Linked DNA regions of Homo sapiens. The protein of the gene in region 1 purifies or fractionates together with the protein of each later gene. This does not show direct contact. Each region holds a gene or a part of one and is shown on either strand. Other genes may lie near its edges.

Region 1 (3,752 bases):
GTGCTAGGATGTGACAGTGTCCTATGGATAAGGGTACTTGGCCAGGCGCAGTGGCTCACGTCTGTTTATCCCAGCACTTGGGGAGGCCGAGGCAGGTGGATCACGAGGTCAGGAGTTCAAGACCAGCCTGGCCAAGACAGTGAAACCCCGTCTCTACTAAAAATAAAAAAGTTAGCCAGGCCTGGTGGCGGGCACCTGTAATCCCAGCTACTTGGGAGGCTGAGGCACAGAATTGCTTAAACCCTGGAGGTGGAGGTTGCAGTGAGCCGACATCGCGCCACCGCACTCCGGCTTGGGTGACAAAGCAAGACTCCGTCTCAAAGAAAAAAAGTAGGTGACAGAGCTGCAGATTCAGCTTTATCCTGAAGTTACAAAGGTGCTGAATATTAGAGCAGTGTTCCCGGAGGCCTTGGCAAGTCTAAGTAGAGTAAGTTATTGTGACGTTCTGGTTATGTCTATACCGTGAGGGAGCAACACTCATGGAATGATGATGCTCAGCTGTCACTGTTCTCCAAGGACAGCCATGCTCTTGGTAGAACACTACGTAGAGCAGGGGTTCCCAACCTCCAGGCCACAGGCCAGTACCAGTCCATGGCCTGTTAGAAATCAGGCCACACAGCAGGAGGTGAGTGGCCCGTGAGCAAGCAAAAGCTTCATCTGTATTTATAATGGCCCCCCAGCACTCGCATTACCGCCTGGGCTCTGCCTCCTGTCAGATCAGCCGTGGCACTGGATTTTCATAGGAGTTGGAATCCTGTGTGAACTGTGTGCGTGCATGGGATCTAGGTCGCCTTCTCCTTATGAGAGTCTAATGCCTGATGATCTGTCAGTGTCTCCCATCACCCCCAGATGGGACCATCTAGTGGCAGAAAAACAAGCTCAGGGCTCCCAGTAATTCTAAATTATAGTGAGTTGTAGAATTATTTCATTATATATTACAATGTAACAATACAGAAATTAAATGCATAATAAATGTAATGTGCTTGAATCATCCCAAAACCATCCCCCCAATTCTAGTCCGTGGAAAAATTGTCTTCCACGAAACCGGTCCCTGGTACCAAAATGGTTGAGGACTGCTGACAGAGAGGGTATGCAGGCCTCTATATGATCCCAGGGTTTCAGAGTCCCTTGGCTGCTGGTGCGTGATGACATTTTGTACCAACACACTGGTGTGCCAGGGCTCGTACTGACTCAGAGCTGCAGCGTGTCACTTCTCTGCATGACTCTTACACCTGAAGCAATGATCTGGGTGCTATGTCTCTCTGGGTGCCTGTCCAAAAGTACTGCCAGTAATGTGCTCAGGGAGGGGCTGCAGTCCCCTTGGTCATGCTGTTCCAAAGCACACATCAATGGAATTCAATCACAGGGAAGGAGAAAAGGCCAGTCCCTCCCTTTCCAAATAGTCCATCACTGAGAAATAAACTGCATCAATTTGATCAAACCTCAACATTTGTGAAAGCAGAGGTCCCAAACTCAAAAAGCCCTAGGGGCAAGCAGGCAAAATTAGTGAGCACAGAAGGCTGGGTAGTAGAGAGTGGTGACGATTATGGCAAGCTACGGAGGCACGTCCTGCCTAAAGAGGGCAGTAGTGACTCAGCCCTGTCAAGTACGGCCATGTTGAAGTGTGGATCTAGGGTTGCCTGACCTGACTTTTTCAGAAATGCTAGAAACCTGGATTTCTTTTTTATTAATGTACAATTTGCAAAACATTTGAGCCAAACAAACTGCATCCATGGCTAAATTTAGCCTGTGGCTGCTACTTGGCAACCTCTGCCCAGAAGCCAGAGTTGCAGGTTTGGGATAGATGAGTTCCATTACCACCAAGCAGATGTCTCGAGGTTCAACTTGCTAAGCCAGAGGGTGACACATTCACCTCCACAGACCCTGGCTCAGTCAGCACTTCAAGTTAGAAATGTCCTTTCTTCTCCTCTCCTGCCTTCCCCCAAGCTGCCTCTCTCAGCAGAGAAAGATGACTTTCCACCCTAACTCTAGAATAAGGCCACTGCTGAGTGCCTACTGCAGGAGCAAGAGATCCTACAGCCCAGCCATTCATTGTCTGTGCAGCCTGTTCATACCTGAGGAGCCAGGCCTGGGATCCCAGGTGGCTGCAGAAGAAGCGGGCTGTGGGGAATTATATTGGCAGCATCCTTCAGGAGGGTCAGATTCTCACAGGTGCATGGGTACCTGGCTGACAGCTAAATAGAAACAATGCCAAAACCACTGGTCACTTGGTTTGATTCTGTCCAGCTGATTATTGTAATTGGATGACAGGGGGATATTTCCTTCTCCTTTTCAATGAGTGATGGAAAGTGAGTGGACCTAGCTCAGGAGTCACCCTTCTGGGTGGTTATGTAAGGGGGAAGGTTATCTCCTTCCACAGGCAGAACTGTTCCTGCCTTTTGGCTACCTAAAGAATGAAATCAAGTCCAACCAAAGTCAAATGCCAGGAAATTTCAGAACTTCCTCACATTGCGTATTGCACCGTCTACAAACATCTTTGAAATTTTCCCTGCTCCAATACTCAGAGGGGATACAGAGTCAAAGAATGAATTAGAACAGAACCAACTACAATAGGGGAAAAGAAAGAAAGCAAGAAGAAAGCTAGCGAGAAAGCAAGAGAGCAAAAGAAGGAAAGCAAGAAAGAGAGAGACACAGAAATAAATACAGTGAAAAATGGCAGGATTTCTCATTTGGGGGTGATTGTGGCAATTAATGTGGAATAAGGAGAATAGTTTTGTTTTGATGGAGTTGCTGCATTGAAGTTCTTTAAAATGAGCTGTAGATTCAGAATTTTGTAATGCTGTGGATGGAGCCCTCTTCTGGAGAAATTTTTCAACAGGTATTACAAGATCAAAATGCAGAGATGTACACACTCACTCAGACGCGCACACAGAAACACTGTTGGCTACGTAGATGATATGACTGTCATTCAGGTGTAAATTAAATCCATAGTTTGTCCTTTTCCTACATTCCACTAAATATAAATTAACTAGACTCCCCAAGCAATTGTATTTTTGGAAGGAAATAAGGATGTTTTCAAGAACCTAGCTACACTTTAACCTAAACATTGAACTTCAGATTGAGGCTCAGTTTACACATCCAAGTGCTGATGCTTTTAGATAATGCAGTTATTGAGTATGTTGGTTTGTTGGGCAATTTCACTATAACACATAGAGGATACTTCTGGAAGTAAACAGATTTTACTTAACGGAAAACCCAAGGGCTAAAGATAGAAAAGGGGAGAAGGGAGGGAGGCAGAGTAGGAGCGATCAGCTAAGATGACTGTTGGGGCTTTTAGTATAGACTGTGGAATTACACAAATTCCAGATTACATACTCAGCTTTGCAGTTTATTAAACCTGTTTTGGGACTTGCTAAAAAAAAATATTCAGACAGGTGAACTCTATCACTGACTCCTTTCACTACATATTCCATTTCCCTAGTGCTCTGGAAATCTTACAGGCTGTCATGTATTGACCCTAGGGGGGGAGGGGGCAGCACCCTCTTCAACCCTGTGTCCTTTTCCTCATCCAAAAAGTTCTGCAAATAAACACTGCTCTTAAAACATAACACACAAATTTGCAGGAGCACTATAAGACACTGATTCTCATTGAAAATCCTGAAAATCAAGACTCTGACCCCTAGAGAGAACTCCCCACTTTATAGCGAAATCTCAGAATTCCATGGAACATTTTCAGTCACTCCCAAGCGACTGTCCTCCAAGCCTGAACCCCTCCCTAAATTCCTAATTCT
Region 2 (3,752 bases), on another chromosome or scaffold:
TTTAAAAAAATAAGAACTTGCCAAACCAAAAAATCCTTCAATGGTGTATTCTGCATCATATTGTGTCCTCTTTGAACAAAAATAACATAACCCGCCACAGATAGAATTATTTTTTTAAGAGGTGAATGACTTTGTGTTCTGAGCTTATATCCCATCCCAGGCCAGTTGTCACATGATGTGGAAGTAAAAACTTAATCATGATAAAAATCATACATTTAGACAAACTTGGTGGAGTTACCATATAAAGGGAAAAAATTAGCCTGAATTATTGAAATTTTTAAATGAGGCCCATTTTAAACGTCAACTACCAGGAAACCATGACCTGGAACAGTATCTTTTTTTCTTTCCAAGGAGACACTTACAGACACTGGTTTAAATGGAGGCCCTGGCCTCTCCTAGTTCCTTCCCCCCAAACAACTTCCAACTGGGGCCATCAAGGGTCGATCAGCAGTGCAACTGCAAACTAAATATAGTACCTGACTGACCACAGGGTAAAAACAGCTGCTGTAGGTGGAAAAAAAAAAAGTTAAAAAGACAAAATGATACCGTCCCATTTCCCCATGCCACCCTAACCCTACCAAGAAAAGTAAAAGAGGACTAGGTGGACATTAGGAATAACCAAGAATAAAGCTGTTCTTTCAAACTGAGAAATAAAAGAAAAATTCACCTTTTTTTTTTTTTTATAACACTTCAAATACCTACTGTTAAAGAGGGCCTTCCACTTTTATGGTTTGTTTCTCAAGTTTAATCTACGAATCCAATCTCTACAGAGAAACAGTAACAGAAAGAAAGTAATCAGACAACAGATCACCCACACATTCAAGCCCAGTTAAAGTTGGCAAGAAATGTATCTAGTTAGGCTTCTACGGTTAACAAATGTATTCATTTCTTCGCCCAGCTTTCACTTGTCCAGGGGAAAGAACACAAGACCGAATTGTACTTCTGTTTCAAGAGGTCACTGTAAAAGCGCACTTCGGAGTGTAGACGTCTCCGATCTGTTCCAACATGACCACCTCTTTGGACCAAAGGCCAGAAACTGCTAAACGCGTGCCCTATTATTTAAAACGTGCATCTGCACCCACTTTGCTAAGCAGCATCAGACCCAGGCGAGGGGCGGGGAAAGGGGCGGCGGGTCCCACTCGTAGCCTCAGGACGACGCAGCCACAGCTTCCTAGAGAGCGATCTCGGCAGAACGGCAGGAAGCATGCGGAGAGGAAGGCGGGGAGGCGGCACGTGCTCTCCGTGCTGGGTCCGCCGGGCCGGCCGGGTGACCCTCGCCAGCTGTGGGGGAGCGGAGAGGTCCGCGCCCCCGGGAGCTCGGGTGGACGCCGAGACCCGGGAGCGGGAGGCGGCTCACCTGGACCCCGGTGTAATTCTCGAAGAAGAAGAGCACCATGCTCTGGTAGACGCAGTAGAGCCGGTCGTCCAGCGCTTGGTAGAAGCGGGCGGGCAGGAAGGCGGAGAGCAGCCGCCAGACCCCCCAGGCCAACACGTAGGTGGGCGCCGTGCCCAGGAGCACGACGCTGGGCAGCAGGTAGCGCATGGAGTACGTGTGGAGCACCAGGGACAGCAGCATCTTCTCAGCTCGGCGGCAGCGAGCTCCGCCTGCGCTCCCCGCCCGCCTCCCGGGCCTCAGTCGCGGCCAGCAGGCGGCCAATCACCGCCCGGGCCCGGGCCGCCGCGCCCGCCACCCGCTCCCAGCCTCCGCCCCCAGCCGCATGGGCCGCGCCGCCGCCCGGGGCCGGGTAGGCGAGTGCGGGGCTGCGTGCGCCGCTCCCGGCGGCAAAGCAAGGGAACCCGCGGCCCTCCCGGATCGATGGCTCAGGGATGCTCACACCCCATGACCCTCACCCATCGCCACATCCCCCTGCCGGGGCAGGGGGCTCCGCGGCAACAACGCGCCTTCTGATTGGTCGCCCGTTGCCATAGTTCCACCTCGGCGGCAATAACACGTCTCTTGATTGGTTGGTTTGGGCCGACAGTTGCAGTACAGCTACCTGCTGGGGCGCGGGCAACCCGGCTCCGGCCACTGCGCATGCTCCCCAGCTGGGCCGGCTGCGGACGCGGGAAGGGAGGTGGTGGCGACTGACGGAACTGGGTGAAGGTGGGTGCTGGCCGGAGGAGGGTCCGGGTGCCTCTTGTTCTGCTCCCTCGGGCCGGACGTGCGCGCGGTCAGGTTTAAGGGTCGCTGGAGCTGCCTGGAACGCGCACCTGCTGCTCACAAGCCCCTGGGCGCCGGGATGCACACAATTAGAGCAGTGAGAAAGTGGGTGTTAACGTTATCGGAGGTCTAATTCTTGCAGGCACCTGGGCCCAGGTTGTAGGCAGCTCGGCCCAGGTCGCGGGGCAGCTCGAGTGTCCCCATCTGCTCACTGCCAGTCCTTTGCAAGGGGACGCCGCCTCCTCAGCCTCCGCTCTGAGTGCGCAGCAGCCCCTCCTGCCCGTCTCTCGCTACCAGGGTGTTTCAGAATTAGGGTCCGTGTTTTTCCCCATCACAGTAATGATGATAATTACATGTTTATGCATAGCTGAAGAACAATCCCACAAGGATATTTCCATACTGTTTATTAGACCTTTTCAGAATTCACTCTTGCTTCATTTCCTCAGAGTCTGTTGGACTTGTTTCTGATTTTTTTTTAATAAGGAGCCTCGTTTTTTTCTGTAGTAATTAAAGTAGTTGCGTGCACATGTGTAATCCATAAAAAGCATACTTTTGTAGCCTTCACTAAAAGCTACGAAGGGTGGATAACTGTTTTATTGATGTTAAAGCAGATCCACAGGACTTTTGGATCTTTCTCCTCCCCTTTGGCTGTGGTAAAAATGGTTTAATATGTAACCCTTTTCAAGGATAGTTGTACTTTAAAAGAATGCCGAATGCTTTACCATATATATATATATATATATATATATATATATATATATATTCCCGCCCCCTCCCCACCACCACCATAATGGGAGCCTGTGCTACCTTTAGGCAGGACGGTATTTCAGTGGGAAGTTCTAATCAGGGCCAGGATGGTAGCTACTTTCTTTATACATGATTAACATCAAATAACAACATCATTGGTAGATGATGACCTTTGGGGACAAAGCCAGGTGAATGGAGATCTCTCAAGTAACAAGTATTTGAAGGCCAGCAGGAAGCATTACACAGTAAAAGGAGCTTCTCTCTTTCTGTGGCTGTCATTGTCCTGTACTGTAAGAAGCACTAGGTTTAGTACTGGTGGAAAAAAGTCACAGGTGTGGACAGTGTGCACAACTAATGCTCCTTATGCTTTCTTTAACTGAGACCAGACATCTCTACACTAGAACAGTGTGCGAAAAGATAAAGCAGGTTCTGTGTTCACGTTAGGATTGCTGTGTATAAAGTCAGTAAATATGTGTTTATGTGTAAATTTGTTGTGAATCACCCCAGATTACTGTTAGTCACGAAGTTGTAAACTTTTGTGCAATGTTTGCCATGAAAACACAGAACTTAACTTTCTCTTGTTCCCTCTTTATCTCCAAACCCAGCTCCTGACTATCAGTTATTGTCTGTCCTGCTCCCGCTCCTCTCTTCCTGCGAACAGTCACAGATCCACCCTCTCTTTCTGCCACTACCCGGCCCTGTTTTTCTGTTTTTTTTTTTTTCCCTTTTTCCGTGCAAACCTCTTAGTTGATAATCAGCCCACACCCTCTGCCTCCTTACCTTGTACTTTTGTTGAGCCCTTGCAGTCTGATGACCTTTTCCTCCCCTTTACTGGAATGGTGCT
Region 3 (3,752 bases), on another chromosome or scaffold:
AAAAGAGTTTTATCTCCCAAATAACAACTAATAGCAAGTCCTAGAGTCTTGTGAAAAATGGCAACTAGTAGTACCTATAATCTCAGCACTTTGGGAGGCTGAGGAGGGCAGATCACTTGAGGTCAGTAGTTCAAGACCAGCCTGGCCAACATGGTGGAACTCCGTCTCTACTAATAATACAAAAATTAGCTGGGCATGGTGGTACACGCCTGTAATCCCAGCTACTCGGGAGGCTGAAGCACAAGAATCCCTTGAACCTGGGAGGCAGAGGTTGCAGTGAACTGAGATTGTGCCACTGAAGACCAGCCTGGATAACAGAATGAAAGAGACTCTGTCTCAAAAAAAAAAAAAAAAAAAAAAAGGCAACCAGTCCCAACTCAGCATAGAAAGAAGATGAATGACAGTAGTTCCCCCTTATCTACAGTTTCAGTAACACATGGTCAACTATGGTCTGAAAATAATAAATGGAAAATTCTGAAAATAAGCAATTCATAAGTTTTATTGTTTTAAATTTATTTTTATTTTTTTAAGAGACAGGGTCTCCATTCCGTTGCCCAAGCTGGAATGCAGTGGCATAATCACAGCTCACTTTAAACTCCAACTCTTGGGGTCAAGTGATCCTCCCACCTCAGCCTCCCAAGCAGCTAGGACTACAGGTGTGTACCACCGCACCCAACTAATATTTTTGGTTTTTGTGGAGACACAGTCTCACTACGTTGCCTGGGCTCATCTGAAACTCCTGACCTCAAGTGATCAGCTCGCCTTGGCCTCCCAAAGTGCTGGAATTACAGGTGTGAGCTACTGCAGCCAAGCCCCTAAGTTTTATATTGTATGCTGTTCTGAGTAGTATAATAAAATCTTGCCAGTCCTGCTCCATCCAGCCTAAGACCTGATTCATCCCTTTGTTTAGTACATCCGCGTTGTATATGTTACCCCATTACTATATACAGAACAACACAGTGTTTTTTCCTATATCCACTAGGGGTCATGGAATGTATCCCTCATGGATAAGGGGGCTACTATATTATAGTTGCCATTTCTTAATCAGTGTTACCTAGAGAACAACTGAGGCAAAACCAACTCCCTGCCTTGATAAACATCAGAATCTTTTGTAGAGGATGTCCTAAAGAAATGGTACTGAAAATTCCAGCAGTTGAATTTGGGATAGAGCTATAGATTTTGGGAAAATTACTGAAATAAGTCTAAATTGGTCCACCTTCTATGAAGGGCATTCTATCAACCTAGGATCATATTACAGAACAAAGTGGTTTAGATCGCAAAAATGGTGAGGCAAACTAGTTGGTTCCAATCCTGGCTCTGCCTTCTATTAGTCACGTGATCTTGGGCAAGTTAGTTAATACTTTTGTGACTCAGTTTTCTCTTCTGTAAAATGGGGATCACAATAGTACATACTTTTCAGGGTCATTTTAAGGATTAAATGAGCTCATATATGTAAAGTTCTCAGAAGAGTTTAACACTTAGTAAGTGCCCAATTAAGTTTAGCTATTAATTGTCACCATCTATTGAAATTACAAAATGCTTTTGTTTTTGTTTTTTTTGAGACAGGGTCTCATTCTGTTGCCCAGGCTGGGGTGCAGTGGTAGCATGATTTTGGCTCACTGCAACCTCCACCTCCCTGGTTAAAGCGGTTCTCCTGCCTGAGCTTCCCGAGTAGCTGGGATCACAGGCATCTGCCACCACGCCCGGCTAGTTTTTTTTTGTATTTTTAGTAGAGATGAGGTTTCATCATGTTGGCCAGGCTGGTTTCAAACTCCTGACCTCAAGTGATCCACGCACCTCCGCCTCCCAAAGTGCTGGGATTACAGATGTGAGCCACCACGCCCAGCACAAAATGCATATACACTGTAAACCGGTAATTCCATTTCTAGGAATGATTAGGTATAAGGTGAAATGACTTGCACAACTTTATTGACCACAGCATTATTTGTACTAGCAAAAAATAATCAATAACTTATATATTACCAATAGAGGACAGAAGAGTGATTAAAGTACAGCACACTCGTACAATGGAAAGAAAAACTAAGCAGCCATAATAAAGAATAAATTTTTTTTTTTGGGGGACAGGGTCTTGCTCTGTCACCCAGGCTGGAGTGCAGTGGTGTGATCGCAGCTCACTGCAGCCTTGTGGGCTAAATCGATACTCTCACCTCAGTCTTTCCAGTAGCTAGCTAGAACTTGAGTAGCTAGCTAGAACTACAGGCGCATACGATCACATCCAGCAAATTTTTAAAATCTTTTGCAGAGATGAGGTTTCCCTGTGTTGTCCTGGCTGGTCTCAAACTCCTGGGCTCAAGAGATCCTTCCGCCTTGGCCTCCCAAAGTGTTGGGATTACAGGCGTGAATCACCACGCCCAGCCTAAGAATCAGTTTTTCATGTACAGTTATAGCATAATCTCTAAAATATTAAAAAACACCTGGTACAGAAGAGTAAGTTTGACATGCTAATGTTAATTTTAAATTCCAATGGGGTGAGCAGAAGAGGAAGAATATACAAATGTATGTGCTCTCTAAAAGGAAAGAAAAAAATAGCACACAAAAGCTCCTAATGGGAAGACACTATGATGTATGCAATGCCCATCTCTGAATCCTGAAACTCTTGGTGAAATTGCCAAGTTTACTGACAACCAAAGTAACCCAAAAGTCAGATCAGTGCTGCAAAATGTCCTCTGCAAGGCAATATGGTGATTAACAAACAAATGAGGCCGGGCGCGGTGGCTCATGCCTGTAATCCCAGCACTTTGGGAGGCCAAGGTGGGTGGATCACCCGAGGTCAGGAGTTCAAGACCACCCTGGCCAACATGGTGAAATCCCATCTCTACTAAAAATACAAAAATTGGCTGGGCGTGGTGGCGCATGCCTTTAATTCCAGCTACTCGGGAGGCTGAGGCAGAATTGCTTGAACCTGGGAGGCGGAGGTTGCAGTGAGCCAAGATCGCACCATTGCACTCCAGCCTGGTGACAGAGTGAGATTCCGTCTCAAAAAGCAAACAAACAAACAAACAAATGAAAACTACTATTTCAGATTCCTTGCACTTCCTCTAAAAGTAGAGGATTGCTGTGAAAATATTACCACACTAGAGTATTATTTGCCATGTGTTTGAGATGTCAAACAATTCAAAAGCTAAAAAAAAAGTATGATTACAACAAAAGTAAAACTTTTTTTTCATTTTCCTTTAAATGCATGAAGGAAAGTTTCTACTTAAATCATCCATATTAATAAAAGTCATCATTTTCAGGGTAACTGTATAAACAGGAGTCAAATACACTGAAATTTACCACAAATTCCAATTTGGTTAAAATATGAGTTTATTCATCTCAAACGATAATTTTAAAATAAATTTTTAAATAATATTCACATTCTAACTTTTTTGATAACTGTATATTTAAGAACAGTGTAGTAAGTTTATAATCTACTTCTAGAATTACAAAATAGCACAATAAAATTGAGCACTGAGCAAAGCCAAATAAACACTGACCATACTATAAGATTAACAAGTAATAATCTTGTACTTGGAACACTGTTTATGTGATTGTGGCCAGGCTCCTTCTGCCATCACTGTGAAATATCACCTTACAGGCCCTGACTGACCCATAATTTAATTTACTAAGAAGATAATATAAGATTAAAAATAAAAGAAGTAATATATCTCTATTTTATTCCAATGAAAAGTATATCATTTAAACCCATAGCACTCCTCCCTGCAAACCATCAAAATTTACCTGTGAAATTT

The links.
Region 2: the proteins of CDH13 (region 1) and AGPAT5 purify together in Homo sapiens (affinity purification with mass spectrometry; 2 studies listed by BioGRID and IntAct, with this or other methods). This does not show direct contact.
Region 3: the proteins of CDH13 (region 1) and VMP1 purify together in Homo sapiens (affinity purification with mass spectrometry; 2 studies listed by BioGRID and IntAct, with this or other methods). This does not show direct contact.

Annotation. Positions count from the first base shown.
Region 1 is NC_000016.10:82,629,965-82,633,716, reverse strand, and holds part of CDH13 (cadherin-13 isoform 1 preproprotein), read right to left. Parts: intron 1-3,752.
Region 2 is NC_000008.11:6,706,493-6,710,244, reverse strand, and holds the start of AGPAT5 (1-acyl-sn-glycerol-3-phosphate acyltransferase epsilon), read right to left. Parts: upstream 1,604-3,752; 5' UTR 1,577-1,603; coding exon 1,358-1,576; intron 765-1,357; exon of another isoform or gene 703-764; intron 1-702. UniProt on the Homo sapiens protein: Converts 1-acyl-sn-glycerol-3-phosphate (lysophosphatidic acid or LPA) into 1,2-diacyl-sn-glycerol-3-phosphate (phosphatidic acid or PA) by incorporating an acyl moiety at the sn-2 position of the glycerol backbone.
Region 3 is NC_000017.11:59,731,512-59,735,263, reverse strand, and holds part of VMP1 (vacuole membrane protein 1), read right to left. Parts: coding exon 3,742-3,752; intron 1-3,741. UniProt on the Homo sapiens protein: Phospholipid scramblase involved in lipid homeostasis and membrane dynamics processes. Has phospholipid scramblase activity toward cholesterol and phosphatidylserine, as well as phosphatidylethanolamine and phosphatidylcholine.